4 linked regions of the Homo sapiens genome follow. The protein of the gene in region 2 interacts with the protein of the main gene of each other region in a biochemical or structural test. Each region holds a gene or a part of one and is shown on either strand. Other genes may lie near its edges.

Region 1 (3,500 bases), on a different chromosome or scaffold from region 2:
CTTTATAAACCTGTTCATGCCCTTTATACTCAAAAATTCTACTGTATGGAAGATCAAGTCTAACGGAAAACCTCAAAAGTTATTTAATAAAGACATTCTTAGCCACACTATTTATGTTAGTGAAAACTAGATCAATGGTTCTCAACCAGGTCAGTTCTGCCCCTTCATAATAGATAGGCATGTGGCAATGTCTAGAAATATTGTTGTTGCAACTTGGGAGGGTGCTACTGGCATCTAGTGGCCAAGGATGCTTTAAACAACCTTACAATTCAACAGTCCCCCACAAAACAACAGATGTCAATAGTGTTGGGAATGACAGTAAACTAGATCAGTAGTACTCAAACTTTGCCATGCATGAGAATCACCAGGAGGGCTTATTCAAACAGACTGTTTGGCCCCACCCTCAGTTCCTGATTCGGTAGGTCTGGGGTGGGACCCAAGAACTTGCATTTTTAACAAGTTCCAAAAATGATACTGATACTGCTGGTCTTAGGAACATACTTTGAGAAACACTGAACTAAATAATACGTGAATGCCTGAAAAGAAAAATAAGCAAACTAGCATGTAAAAACATGATACAATTTTATACAGCAATCAAAATGATATTTGGAGCACCCTAAAATCAACTATATTAGTCTTTAATATACACTTACATTTCTCCCTGCTTGTAATCAGTATACTTAATTTTTTCATATGAGAAAGTTTTCTTATATAGCTTTCTAGATAGCAACATAATCCAAAACAACCCAAACCATGAAAGTACATGACACTATCTCCAGTACGCAGTAAGTACTTAATACACATTAAACAGATGAAGAAAAAACAGATAAAACTAAAAATGGGCCGGGCACAGTGGCTCACGCCTGTAATCCCAGCACTTTGGGAGGCCGCAGCAGGTGGATCATGAGGTCAAGAGATTGAGATCATCCTGACCAACATGGTGAAACCCCGTCTCTATGAAAAATACAAAAATTAGCTGGGCATGGTGGTGCACACCTGTAGTCCCAGCTACTGGGGAGGGTTAGGCAGGAGAATCACTTGAACCTGGGAGGCAGAGGTTGCAGTGAGCCGAGATCATGCCACTGCACTCCAGCCTGGTGACACAGCGAGACTCTGTCTCAAAAAAAAAAAAAAAAACAACAACAACAAAGTTTTGCAACACATTACTGCATTACTGAAGGCCAGTAATCCAATAGCACTGCTTTTCTCCCATGGATTCTTCCATGAGGGACTCACTGCAACATGCAGAGCCCTCTCTGACAGATCTCCTATAGAGATTGTTTTAAAATGCTTGTTGATTGGCTGAATCAATGAATAAATGACACCACAGAGTTTCTGTTCACTCACACTACCAACCCACTCAAGTGACTCACCATCCAGCCAGCAGGTATGCCAGAAGCCACAGTGGCTTGGCCAGTCTTGGCATTCTCATCAAACTTGTCAGCAGTGACAAAGTCAACAGGCAAGGTAATCTTCACACCATTCTTCTCAGCTTTGGACATTAGGTCTTTGACAATCTTGGCTCCCTCTTCATCAAACAGAGAAGTGCCAATCTACACAGGGGAGCCAAAATGATGGAGGTCAGCATCTATACTAAGAACAAGACTGCCTCACAAAGCAGACAGGAACCAGACACAATACAATATAAAGGAACAATGCAAAGACGAAAGACTTGCCAAAATAAATAAAAATGGGAATTTTCAGGGCTCATGTCAAAAGACTGTTTTCTTTTTACATTTATACAACCTGCTATTATCATGGAGAGCTATTTCACATCCACTTGGCATTTGTTTCCTACCTCCATGTTGTTGAGCACCTTAAGGAAGGTAAAAGCCATTCCACCACCAATAATCATCTCATTGACTTTGTCCAGCATATTATTGATGAGCTGGATCTTGTCTGCAACTTTAGCTCTACAAGAGAAAGCAAGAATCATCACTTAAAGAAGAATGGACTAGAGAAGTGGTATTACATAGAAACTGAGTTTCTATTTCAAGGCACAGGAACAGAGAAAGTCTCAAAGTGACAAAAGTACTGCCTAACTTTGCCCTATGTTTCTCCAACCCAAAAACTCAATCCATTTCTAAGAAATCCTTTTAAGGTATGGCTCCAGACATCAGTGTATCTTTTTAAAAATTCCTCACCCCACTTACCATCAATACATTTTTTTTTAATTCTACCTAGAAGCTGATGGACAACAGATTTAAATCCATATTCTTTTTTTAAGCAGGGCTCAGAAGACCTACTCTTGTCTAAGGAAACTATGGGTTCCACATCTATTTTGCACATTCCCCAACACACACACACACACACACACACACACACACACACACACACAAATTCAGAGCATCAAGATTGCTAATTGTATCTAAGCACGATTGCTAATTGTGGGATCCCAGAGCCACTCAGAATTATCCTAACCTTAGAGCAGGGATTGACTGGACTGTATACTAAATAAATATATACTGAACAAAAATATATATTCCTAAAGTCATACCCTATGCTCAGTTGCTGGGACATTTTTTTCTCTCTCTCTTTTCAACACAAAGTCTCACTCTGTTGCCGAGGCTGGAGTGCAGTGGTACAATCATAGCTCACTGTAACCTGGAACTCCTAGGCTCAAGCAATCCTCTTGCCTCAGCCTCTCAAGTAGCTGCGACCACAGGCGTACAACACTACCCCTGGATAATTTTTCTTTTTAAATTTTTTTGTAGAGACAAGGTCTCACTATGTTGCCCAGGCTAGTTTCAAACTCCTAAGCTCAAGTGATCCTCCTGCCTTGGCCTTCCAAAGCACTAGGGTTACATGCCTAAGCCACCATGCCCAGCCTGGGACATTTTCTTTATGGCATTTATTTTTATTGGGTCACCCAATTCAACACATTTACTGGGCACCTACTCTGTGCCAAGCACTATTCTAGGTCTTTGAGAAACATCACAGGGCAAAGGCAACAGAAAGATCCCTACCCTTTGGGATCTTATTTTCTAGTACATGGAAATAAGATAAATACACATGTATCTTGCATCTCCCTATGAGACAAAAAAGATCCAAACTAAAGAGAAACAAAGTAATAGCCTGCCTTCCATAAACATTCCCATATAACTAAATCCCACTTACGTGGACAAACCACCTTGTGTCTGTTTCCTTCTTCATTCAATAAACAAGATAATGCCTATCCAGTGAGAAACCCTATGCTAGGATTTGTGAAAAGGAGGTATGAAACAACAGTGATGTGGGTGAACAGATGGCAAGAAACTATTTACTATTTATTTCAGTTGTAAAGATTGGTTACCACCAAGGGTAAAGATAGATTGTTTTAAATACACACACACACACACACACACATACACACACAAAGGGAAGAAAGCAGTTAGAAAGGAGTTCAATTTCTTCTAAAGAATAGCTTACAGCTCAAATGCCTGTTTCTTCAACAAATCAACAGAATGAAAGTAATAAATAGGAGATTATTACAAGAGATACCTAACAGCCAAAGGCAATGC
Region 2 (5,900 bases):
AGCCAGATCATCTTTCCCATCTTTGTCTTAAGTGAATTCTGTGCTTGTCTAAAAGATACTTATTTTGACCTTTTGTCCATATATTCTTTATAACCCCACCCTAGAAAAATATGACATCACATACTTTCTGCTTTGATGGAAGTCAGTTATCCCACTTACCTAAACTTGAAACTTTAATCTTCAGCTGATGCTTTTTATTTGTTCCCCATATCGTCACCTAGCTTTATTTCTTTTTAGTAAGTATGGCATTGTGTCTTCTTTCCATTCCCATTTCCACCACATTAATTAATTTCCTTACACTTTGTTCCTGATTTACAACAGTTTCTCACCTATGCTGCCTGCTTGCACTTTTCCATTCTTCAGTTCATCTTGTATGTTGGTGCTAGAATAATCTTAAAATGCCACTTTCATCCAGTTTCATGGATACTGTTCCTCTTCCTTTCCATTTTTCCAGCAGTTAGCTGTTTTTTTAGTTCATCTTTCCCTTACTAGTCACTGGACACATAACACAGTAACACAGTCATTGTAGTATTCTTTTTCTATTGCTTAGGACTCTGCATTTTGTCTCCACTGTAAACCCCTTGGCGGCAGTATCTCCTCTGGTTTCTAAAGTATGTTGTGACTTCAGCAGAGTATCTGAATGGATGACTCTGAATTGGTTCTAGCATCATGTTTAGGAGAATGCCACTATTCTAATATTCTGAAAATCTGCTGGGAAGTAATGAATGGGGTGAATTTTATTACGGATTTCAAAAGTTTTGTAGCGTTTATGTAACAGAACATTGGACATTATAATATGATAAATTATAAAACGTGCTAAAACTTTACTCTTATGGTTCTTTTTTAAATATGATCTTAATAACAGCTAAAGTTATATAAACATAACTTCAATAGGGAGCAAAGCTGATGAGGTCCAGGCACATAACAGTCTAGTAATCTAATTGGGAAAGTAAATCAAATTAGATCATGAGACAGGTATATGCCTGCACCTCATCAACTTTACTCCTTATTGAAGTTATATTTTTGATTGGATGTTTTATATATCTTAGCATTCCCAGAGCTTAACAGTGTCCAGCACATAGTAGGTGCTTGAAAATATTTGAATGAATGATTTAATGTAAGGATATAAAGTAAAATACTTAGTGTAATGGATGAATAGCATGTCTCTTTATTTTGAGATATTTGTCAGATTTTTATAACATTTTTCTGATAAACATGATTATTGAAATTTTTGAAGTAAAGAAAGCCAAAATAAAGTCTTTTCCCATTATTGAAATATTGCCACTGTTGACATTTTGTTATATTCCTTTAGCCTTTCTAGGCATACATAGGTACATTTTTTAGAAACTAAATTGGGATCTTGTTTTGTTTTTGTTTTTGAAAAGAGAACCAGAATATGGGATCTTATTTCTGATCTCCATTTTTTTTAATATATATCTTGAATATTGCTCATGTAGTAAATATTCTACAACTGGATTTAAGGTCCATTGCATATTATATTATAATATATTCAATCACCTTTTACTATTGACCCTATAGATTGTTTCTATTTTTTCCTATTAAGAAAAATGCTGTAATGCACAAACTATCTGGCATAATATTGGTCAAATGTTTATTCTTTCACTGTTTTGGCAAGCTTTTTTTTTTTTTTTTGAGACATGGTCTCTCTGTCACACCACTGTCACTGGAGTGCAGTGGTGCAATTACAGCTCACTGCAGCCTTAACTCCTGCACTCAAGCAATCCTACCCCCTCAGCCTCCTGAGTAGCTTGGATTACAGGCATGTGCCGCTACACTCAGCTAATTTTAAATATTTTTTTTAGAAACAGGATCTTGCTATGTTGCCCAGGCTGGTCTCAAACTCCTGGCCTCAAGTGATCCCCTCCTATCTTGGCCTCCCAATGCACTGGGATTACAGGTGTGAGCCACCATGCCTGGCCAGTAAGCTTTTATTTTTTTTTAAGTATCTACTATATGCCAAGTTTTAATAAGTGAGAAAGATCTGTTCAGTGAAAGAATGATGTATAAACTCTATATTGAAAGTCTCCTCCATACTGGTGAACTCTACTGGAAGGAAGGCTTGCTTCATTCTGTTTGCTACAATGACACCCTTAGCCATGCTTCTAAAATGGGCTATGGGTACCATCTTTGTTTGCCTGGGACAGATCTAGCTTACGGCTATTGTCACAATGTAATTATTATTCCTGCTGCCTTTTCACTCAAGAGTGTCCCAGTTTGGGCTTATATTATGTATTATCCCCTAGTTCCAGGAGGTATAAACCAGAGAGTACATGAAGCCCCAGAATAACCATGACTATATGCCTAGAGTGTCAGTTTTAATCCATGACAAGATATTGAAAACGTTTCATTTATGTGATGAATATTTATTGTCTGTTATATACATGTACTTTTTTAGGTGCTAGGGATAAATCAAACCATAAAACAGAAATTAACACTGTGGTAGTTAGACAATAGACAGAGAGTAAACAAAAGAAGTAAATACTGTGCTCAAAAGTGATTAATGTTACTAAGAAAATGTAAAAGGGAAGGGGAGATAGGAAGTATTGGGGAAGGAGATTGTAATTTTAGTGAGTATGGTTGCTCATAGCCTTCTGTAACATTTGAGCTAAGACTTCAAGGTGGTGAAGGAGTGACCTGTGCAGATATTTGGGGAAGAGCATTCCAAACAGAGGAAACGGCAAGTACAAAGACCCTGAAACGGCAAGTACAAAGACCCTGAGATGGGAGTGTGCCTAGCATTCAAGAATAGCAAGGAGGTCATTGTGGCTAGAATGGGGAAGGTAATTGGAATGAAGTCAAAGAGAGATGTAAAGAGGCTTTCTAATGGAGTGAGATGTGAAACCATTAGAGGTTTTGAGCACAATAGTGACAAGGTGACTTAGCTTTATCAGAATACTCTGTTTAAACTCTGTTTGCTATGTTGCAAGCCGACTGGCTACTATGTTACAGATAGACTCCAGGCTGGCAAGGAGTGTAGTTAAGGAGACTATTGGTATATTAAAACCAACTTGGATATATTATGCAGCAGAAAACAAAAGTGACTTAAAATGTCAAAATAGAAGCCTAGACCTTCATGTATAAAATAGAGGCATTTAAATAATTTTTAGCATATTATAGATTTTCGGGATCCTCCTCCAGTCCTCAAAGTCTGTTTCATTTGTCTGTCTTTAGTACTGTTTTCCAGCTTTTGACATGAATGCACTTTTCTGCTTTCTGCTGTCATTTCCCACTTCAGAATTTGAGGATATTGCATTCACTTTGGTTGCCAGGAAGTTTTACTGTTGTTTAAAATTGTTGAAGTTGTTCTGAAGTGACAGGAAACCTTAATAAACATTTTGATTTTTGTAAAGAGGAGTAGATGCATAATAAGTGAGTAGTGGTGTGGAAGTACCCTTAATGTTTCTCCTCCCTTTCACATCTGTTCTCCACTTGTCATTTTTCTGCTTAAAAACTTCCTATAGCTTTCATGTGCATTCTCTCTTGTCTTCCTCAGCCACATTCTATTTCTATTATTGTTATTATTGTTATTATTATTGAGACAGGGTCTCCCTCTTCCATCACCCAGGCTGGAGTACAGTGGCACGATCATAGTTTAGTAACCTCAAACTCCTGGGCTCAAGGTATCCTTCTGCCTCAGTCTCTGTAGCTGAGACTACAGGCCCGTGTTACAAAGCCCAGCTAATTTTTGTTTGTTTGTTTGTTTTTTAGCTTTTTTAAGAGATAGGGTCTCAAACACCTGGCCTCAAGCAGTCTTCTTGCCTTGGTCTCCTAAAGTGCTGGGATTACAGGCCTGAGCCACCGCCCCAGGCCACATTGTATTTCATTGTCTCTCAGCCCTCCCCCTACCCTAATCATCCAAGCCTTTTTTTTTTCTTGTTCCTGTCTTTACAGACGTAGTTAATTTTTCCTAAAATGTTTTCTTCCACTTTCACTACTTGGTGAATGCTTCAGAACAAAACTTAGCTGTCAACTGAAGGCTTCCTATCACCTTCAGAAATCCTCCCCAACCTAGTAGTATATACATTCTTTTATTACAGGTGTCACCTTGTATTAAGAATGATAACATGTTTCCTTTACTAGACCAAGCTCTTAGTGGCTGCATCAAATTTATTGGTTTTTTTTACATACCCATTGCTGAGCATTTTTTAAGACAGCGTTTATTTAAATGAATTAGTTCTAGCCAGGTGCGGCGGCTCACACCTGTAATCCCAGCACTTTGGGAGGCCAAGGTGGGCAGATCACTTGAGGTCAGGAGTTCAAGACCAGCCTGGCCATTGTGGTGAAACCCCGTCTCTACTAAAAACACAAAAATTAGCTGGGCGTGGTGTTGCGTGCCTGTAATTCCAGCTGCCCATGAGGCTGAGGCATGAGAATCTCTTGAACGCAGGAGGCAGAGGTTGCAGTGAGTGGAGATTACATCACTGCACTCCAACCTGGGCAACAGAGTGAGACTCCATCTCAAAAAAGAAAGAAAATTAGAAAATATATATAATCAGCAACACCTCTGTGAAATTGGGCAAATGATTTAACCTCCCTGAATTGAGTTTCCTTATCTGAAAAATCAGGATAATCATTCCTGCTCTGCCAAGTTCACAGTACTGTTAGGAAGACCTCAAAAGATACTGCATGTGCCGGTGCTTTGAAAATGTCTTAAACTTATGCTATATAGGGCTAGTAGAGCCTAGATACTGTAATAAAATCTGAAGACTTATCTAGTTCTCTTCTGTATCCAGTAGTTTACTGGGTTTTGTATTATTGCCTCCCCTTGTTTTAACTATGTACATTTTTATAAAGAACTGATACTTATTTAAAAGTAGCAATTTATCTGCAGTCAAGGATAGAGGATACTACTGGCAATTGGGACAAATTTTTAAAAATACTTTTTTACATGCTTGAGAGCTTTAGTAGGCCTTCTCTCTGAAAATATAGTGTGAATATTTAATACATAAAATTTTACCAAGCCTTTAAGATTTTGTATCTTTACGGGAAATAGTTTTCAAGAACATCGCAATGTGTCCTTGTCATGCCATCTAGTGATCACAGCACAAATTGTTTAGTTATTTTAAAAATTTGGTGCTTTTTCATGTTGTAATCTCTACAGTAACAATGTATCTCTTAGTATATAATTCCAGTATAGTAGAAATTTGGTGTATTTAATTCTGGGACTGTCATTTTTGTCTGTTCAAGAGGTGTGTGTGAGTTATAGCAACTTGATGGGTTTTAATCTTATCACAATGTTATTAAAACTTATGTATAATTAATTACTCATATTTTATAATTTATTTCATTGAGCTTTTTAAATTTTAAGAAACTGTAAAATATACTGTCATTGATTAAAACTCTAAATTTTTGTTTCCTTGAAAGGTGTTAAAAAAGATATTGAGAAGCTTTATGAAGCTGTACCACAGCTTAGTAATGTGTTTAAGATTGAGGACAAAATTGGAGAAGGTAATCTGGGGATATGCTTTTACTATTTTTACGAGGTCTTTTTTCCATTCTATTTTCCTTTTTTAGTCTTGGTTTTCATTACTATTTCTTATTGAAAAATATACCACTTTTTAGACTATTAAGACCATAGTTTTATTACTAATTATGGTAACAGCTTTTCTTTTTCAACCTTAAAGAAAGAATAAATAATAAATATTTACTGTAAAATGAAGTCCTGTTTTAATGTATTATGCCATTGAAACAGTTTTTACAATCTATCTTAGAATTGTTTCATTAACATTTTTAAAAACCAGATATTGAAAAATTTAATAAATTGTTTTACAGGCACTTTCAGCTCTGTTTATTTGGCCACAGCACAGTTACAAGTAGGACCTGAAGAGAAAATTGCTCTAAAACACTTGATTCCAACAAGTCATCCTATAAGAATTGCA
Region 3 (2,526 bases), on a different chromosome or scaffold from region 2:
AGAACAGATGGATTTACTCAGCAGGGTGGTGTAGGCCCACTCATGTAAAGACGACGGTGCTCACTGCACCTGGGGAGAGTAGGCCCCCATTCAAGGAGAAGCTGTTCAAGGTGACATTCGTATTGTATGCCAAATCTGAGGTTATGCTCAAATGCGACAAAAATAAACCTGCAATGACTTGGGAAGTGGTCTGTAGGTCCTTACAAAGCTAGAGGCTTCAGAGATGGAGCTTCAAATGATAATGATGGCACCACAGGGATCCACGCACTGCAGGTAATGAATGCACCCTTGGTTTTTACAAATGATGGTGGTTGGGATGAGACTCAGATTTAAGGAGCTGGCCCTCTGGTGCAGGATAATCTATGTTTGGCCCCTTCCTCCTCTTTTTTTTGGAGCAAAAAGGTTGAGCTAAGAAAGGAATAATCTTCTTTCTAGTCTGGATCATCCTTCTCCCTTTCTCTTTATAACCCAAAAGCCTTTACTCACTTTCTTTTCTTTTCCTTTTTTTTTTTTTTTTGGAGAGATGGGATTTTGCTATGTTGCCCACGCTGGCCTCAAACTCCTGGGCACAAGTGATCTGCCTGCCTCAGCCTCCCAAAGTGCTGGGATTACGGGCGTGAGCCACTGTGCCCAGCCTCTTTACTCTCTTTTTATTCAAAGGGCCCAGGGACTCTTGTTTTGTTTTTATTTTTTTTTAGAGACAGGGTTCACTCTGTGGCCCAGGCTGGAGTGCAGTAGTGCGATCACAGCTCACTGCAGCAGCCTTGATCTTCAGGGATCAAGTGATCCTCCTGCCTCAGCCTCTTGAGTAGCTGGGACCAAAGGTGTACACCACCATGCCCAGCTCATTTTTAAATTTCTGTAGAGATGGGGAGTCTCACTATGTTGCCCAGGCTGGTCTTGAACTCCTGGGCTCAAGTGTTCCATCTGCCTCAGCCTCCCAAACTGCTGGAATTACAGGCATGAGCCACCAAGTCCAGCCCTTCTTGCTCTAGTTTTTAAAATGGTGGGTGACTTCCACCCTGAGAAGGGATGTGAACACTATGGTGAAAACTTATTTCCTATGAAGTTTACTCTGGGAAAAAGAGAGAGAAAGAGAGAAGACATATAATAAAGCTAAGGAAGTATGTCTGCCTGCTTACTTGGATTTCAGAGGGTTGGGGTGGGGTGGGGATGCTCTGCCTGTCTCCCCTTCCCCTTACCTAGCTTAGAGTCTACTCGTTCTCATTAGTCTGTTCTCATGCTGCTAGTAAAGACATACCCAAGACTGGGTAATTTATAAAGGAAAGAAGTTTAATGGACTCAGTTCCACATGGCTGGGGAGGCCTCACAATCATGGTGGAAGACGAAGGAAGAGCAAAGGCATGTCTTACATGGCGGCAGGCAAGACAGTGTGTGCAGGGAACTCTCCTTTATAAAACCATCAGATCTCATGAGACTTATTTGTTTTCATGAGAACAGCCCGGGAAAGACCTGCCCCATGATTCAATTACCTCCCACTGAGTCCCTCTCTCAACTTGTGGGAATTATGGGAGCTACCATTCAAGATGAGATCTGGGTGGGGACACAGCCAAACCATATCACAATTTCTGCCCTGAAAGGTGGCACGCCAGTGGCCTTAGCCCTTACAACCTCCCAACCATCACCTTCCACCTCTAGAGACTGGTTCAGTATCAATGAAGAGAACTCTGGTAGCCTATATGTCGATCAATGATAAAATTGTGAGAAAAAAAAAATCACTATTCTAGTTAGGAGTCAGCAAACTACAACCCCAATCCAGCACATCACCAGTTTTTATAAATAAAGTTTTATTTGAACACAGCCGTGCCCAGTTGCCTGTGTATTATCTATGGTTGCTTTCAGGCTGCACCAGCAGAGCCGTGTGGTTGTGACAGATCATCTGGCCCACAAAGCCTAATATATTCACCACTGACATTTTACAGGCAATGTGTGCTGCCTTCTGTTCTAGATCAAGAACTAGCCAAGCATGGTGGCTCAGGCCTGCAATCCCAGCACTTTGGGCAGCTGAGCCCACTTGAGCCCAGGAGTTTGAAACCAGCCTGGACAACATAGTGAGACCTTGTCTCTATAAAAAAAAGTAAATTAAAAAAATTAGCTGGGTGTAGTGGTGCACACCTGTAGTCCCAGCTACTCAGGAGGCAGAAGCAGAAGGATCGCTTGAGCCCATGAGTTCAAGGCTGCAATGGGCTATGATCATGGCACTGCACTCCTGCCTGGATGACAGAGTGAGACCCTGTCTCAAAAAAAGAAGGAAAAAAAAAAAAGCAACTGACAAAAAGTCCAGAAAAAACATGGTTCTTACAATCACAGTGCCATCTGGAGGCTGAAAGGCATCATGCCCTTCCATTTGTGCCCTGTACTTAATAAACAGAATTTTTTTTAATTTTTCTAACGTTTTCCATAAGCTCTTGCTATAATGACATTTTTAGTCATCTAGTTTGGAAAAAAGTCAAGTATCAATATATAAATAACTACTTAAAAATTATAATCTAGATTGTGAAAAAT
Region 4 (3,500 bases), on a different chromosome or scaffold from region 2:
AATAATAACCCTCTCTCAACCACATAACCCCTTCAGCAGTTATAATCCTCTCTCTTGGCCAGACACAGTGGCTGATGCCTGTAAACCTAGCACTTTGGGAGGCCGAGGTGGGTGGATCACCTGAGGTCAGGGGTTTGAGACAAGCCTGGCCAACATGGCAAAACCCCATCTCTACTAAAAATACAAAAATTATTTGGGCGTTGTGGCACACGCCTGTAATCCCAGCTACTCGGGAGGCTGAAGCAGGAGAATCACTTGAACCTTGGAGAAAGAGGCTGCAGTGAGCCGAGATCGTGCCACTGCACTCCAGCCTGGGTGACAGAGTGAGATTCTGTCTCAAAAAAAAAAAAAGAAAAAGAAAAAAGAAAAAAAAATACTCTCTCTCCTTTATAGCAAATAAATAAGTAAATAAATGAATCCTAGAATACAGGCTAATAAGAATAGGATATAGCTATGTTATACTTGTTGCTGTATCTCCCCAAAGCCTACCACAGTGTTTTGTTTATAATGGGCAACACAATAAATGTTAAATAAACGAATGAAAAACATTATCTCTCTTTGCTACATCTACTTTCTCATAAATACTACAATATGACTTCTACTTCATCATACCACTGAAAGTGTTCTGGATAAAGCTACAAATGACTGCTTTATCAGTAAATCAGAGGATTCTGCTTGATTTCTTGGTGACAACTGACTTTTGACCATTACTCCTGTCCCTTACAGTTTCCTAGTTTTCTTGTATATGCAACTTTATATGAACTGTTACATGCACTTAAGCTTACATCATGAGTTATTTTCCCAAGTTACTATCCTTCAAAAGTGTGATTTTCAATAACTCTATAAAAATACATGATGCTATTGATTGACTGCCATTTTAGACATTTAGGTTATATCCTGTGATCCCTATTATCTCATTTGTTCTCTGCCACAGGTGTCTGGAATGAGGCCAGCCTTCCTTTTCTTTGGTAACTATCCTTGGGACTTCCTCTCCCATCAAGCCTTGATTTGGAATGAGACTGTCTCTGAGCTCCCTTCTTGCTGTCCCCAAAAACAAATTCATATGGTTCCCCTTCATCTGAATTTTTACTGCTAATCACTATAGGAAAACATGCAATATTTATTTAGCACATACTAAGTTTAAAGCACTGTGCTAGGTTTGAGGATAAGGCAGTGATAGACATAAACACAGTCTGCTTTGAGCTTAGGAGCTTGTATTCTAGAAAGAAAGATGAACTCTAATTACTCAATTATTTAAGTAAAACTTGTTACATATAATGAAGAACAAAATGGGAACTTCCAAATCGTGTGTGTGTGTGGTATGGGGGGGTGATCATGGTGGTTGTGGTATTTGTGAGAAGGCGTCTTTAAGGAGCAGACATTTAAACTGAAATCTAAAGGTTATGTAGCAGTTAGCTAGGTGAAGGAGAAAAGAAGCTGGAAAATGCTGTATATACAAGCATGGGAAGCAGAATGGTGAATATAAAAAATGGAAAAAAGTGGTTAAAGTGCAGATACCGAGGAAAGAAGGTGTATGTGCTAGATGGGGCTAGGCACAGGTAGGGGCCAGATCATTTGGGCCTTGTTAGTTATTTAAAAGATTCTGTTATTTATCCCAAGAGCTATGGGAAACTACTGAATATTTTTAATGAGCAGGGTGACATTAAATTTTTATAAAATCATTCTGGCTACAGCATGGATAATAAATTATAAGAGGATAAGAGCAGACAGAAGATCAATTAGACTGTTAGAGAAGAGATGATGGTGGCTTGATCTAGAGTGGTAAAAGTATCATGATAACAAGTGAATGAAATTGAGACAAATAAGAGGGGCTTTGTAAGCTCAATAGGACTAATGGTTAAATATTAGGAGTGGGGGAGAGAGAGATGTCAAGAAGGACTCAAATTTCAGGCCTGGGTAACACAGCAGACTGCAGTGCTTATCACTGAAATAAGAAACACTGGAGGAAAGCCAGATATTTCACTTTTTGTTGGTGGGTTGAAGCAGAGGTTAGAATTCCTAAGTTCAGTTTTGGAAATGTATTAATATAGCTGGGAAACAGCAATAAAGGTCAAGAATATTATAAAAAATAGGTCTGGTCTTTAAAAACAGGGGCATTATTAATACACAGATGATTGTTGAAGTCACAGGTGTGGCTCAAGTTGCCTAGGGAAAAAAATGTAATATGAGAAAAGAGCCTAGGGCCAAGCCTAAAGGAACAGTTATATTTAAAGGTCAGATGGTAAAGATAGCCTTTGTTAGTAAAAACAACCAAAGAATAAAGAGGAAAACCAGAATACTGTGGAATCATGTCTAAGAGAAGAGAGTTTTAAGAAAGAGTAGCCAACAGTGTCAGGTGCCACTGAGAGGACAAACAGCCGAGACTAACAAAGGTTCTGGGAAAGTGGAGGAGATGGAATTCAGAGCATAGGTAGAAGAATCTACCTTAGGAAGAGGAACCCCATCCTGCTGAAAAAGGAAAGAAAGAGAAGATGGACACTAACACAGGTAGCTCAATTCTCAGTTGATGGCTTCAACCTTGTTCTGTGAAACAGAGTGAAGACTGAACAGAATGAACTCAGGCGTTAGAATGTGGGGTTTAAACAGAGTCAAGAATTTAGGTGGAGGCTGGGCGCGGTGGCTCACACCTGTAATCCCAGGCCTTTGGGAGGCCGATGCAGGCAGATCAACTTGAGGTCAGGAGTTCAAGACCAGCCTGGCCAACATGGTGAAACTCTGTCTCTGCTAAAAATTAGCCAGGCATGGTGGTGTGTGCCTGTGATCCCAGCCACACAGGAGGCTGAAGCAGGAGAATCGCTTGAACCCGGGAGGCAGAGGTTGCAGTGAGCCAAGATCGCACTACTGTACTCCAGCCTGGGCGACAGAGCAAGACACTCCATCTCAAAAAAAAAAAAAAAAAAAAAAAAAAATTAGGTGGAAAAGAAGTCTGGATACCAGGTGCCCTATTATCTCAATACATGAGGTGGAATGGCTGAAGAGACAAAAATCAGTCTTAAGGAGAATAGGGAAATAGAGCCAGATTGCATGAGTCTCAAGGAAGTCCACATTTTTATAAGAAGTTGGGGGCAGTAACAGTCTGGAAGTGGCAACAAGAAGGATGGCACCGAAATGACCTCCAACCCTGAGGGATTAGGGTTTGAGAAAATACATAGCTACAACTAGAGGTAAGTCCAGGGGAAGCAGCATCCCAAAGAAGGAATCAGGTTTTAGCTAAGGCAATGAGGAAGACTATTAGGAGAATAATAATTCCTAAGGCACATGGGAGGGAGGGAAAGAATGAAAGGTAAAGTCAGCAGAAAAGAAGTACAAAACACAGGGATGAGAGAATGGAAGAGGGCAGGTGTGGGGAGGAGCGGGTGCTTATTCTATGGATATTGCCCATGGGAAGTAGGGAACAGTAAAGAAAACAAAAGAAAGTTACAGAGCCCCCAAGTTCTATGTCAAGATTCCAGGTCTAAAGTTCTTGCTTCCTTCTGAGG

Evidence for each region.
Region 1: the proteins of CDC7 (region 2) and PGK1 form a complex in vitro, tested with the Homo sapiens proteins (one study listed by BioGRID).
Region 3: the proteins of CDC7 (region 2) and MCM10 form a complex in vitro, tested with the Homo sapiens proteins (one large-scale study listed by BioGRID and IntAct).
Region 4: the proteins of CDC7 (region 2) and ORC5 form a complex in vitro, tested with the Homo sapiens proteins (one large-scale study listed by BioGRID and IntAct).

Annotation. Positions count from the first base shown.
Region 1 is NC_000023.11:78,121,248-78,124,747, reverse strand, and holds part of PGK1 (phosphoglycerate kinase 1), read right to left. Parts: intron 1,914-3,500; coding exon 1,799-1,913; intron 1,554-1,798; coding exon 1,374-1,553; intron 1-1,373. UniProt on the Homo sapiens protein: Catalyzes one of the two ATP producing reactions in the glycolytic pathway via the reversible conversion of 1,3-diphosphoglycerate to 3-phosphoglycerate.
Region 2 is NC_000001.11:91,502,469-91,508,368, forward strand, and holds part of CDC7 (cell division cycle 7-related protein kinase), read left to right. Parts: intron 1-5,385; coding exon 5,386-5,469; intron 5,470-5,793; coding exon 5,794-5,900. UniProt on the Homo sapiens protein: Kinase involved in initiation of DNA replication. Phosphorylates critical substrates that regulate the G1/S phase transition and initiation of DNA replication, such as MCM proteins and CLASPIN.
Region 3 is NC_000010.11:13,206,558-13,209,083, reverse strand, and holds part of MCM10 (protein MCM10 homolog), read right to left. Parts: intron 1-2,526. UniProt on the Homo sapiens protein: Acts as a replication initiation factor that brings together the MCM2-7 helicase and the DNA polymerase alpha/primase complex in order to initiate DNA replication. Additionally, plays a role in preventing DNA damage during replication.
Region 4 is NC_000007.14:104,131,514-104,135,013, forward strand, and holds part of ORC5 (origin recognition complex subunit 5), read right to left. Parts: intron 1-3,500. UniProt on the Homo sapiens protein: Component of the origin recognition complex (ORC) that binds origins of replication. DNA-binding is ATP-dependent. The specific DNA sequences that define origins of replication have not been identified yet.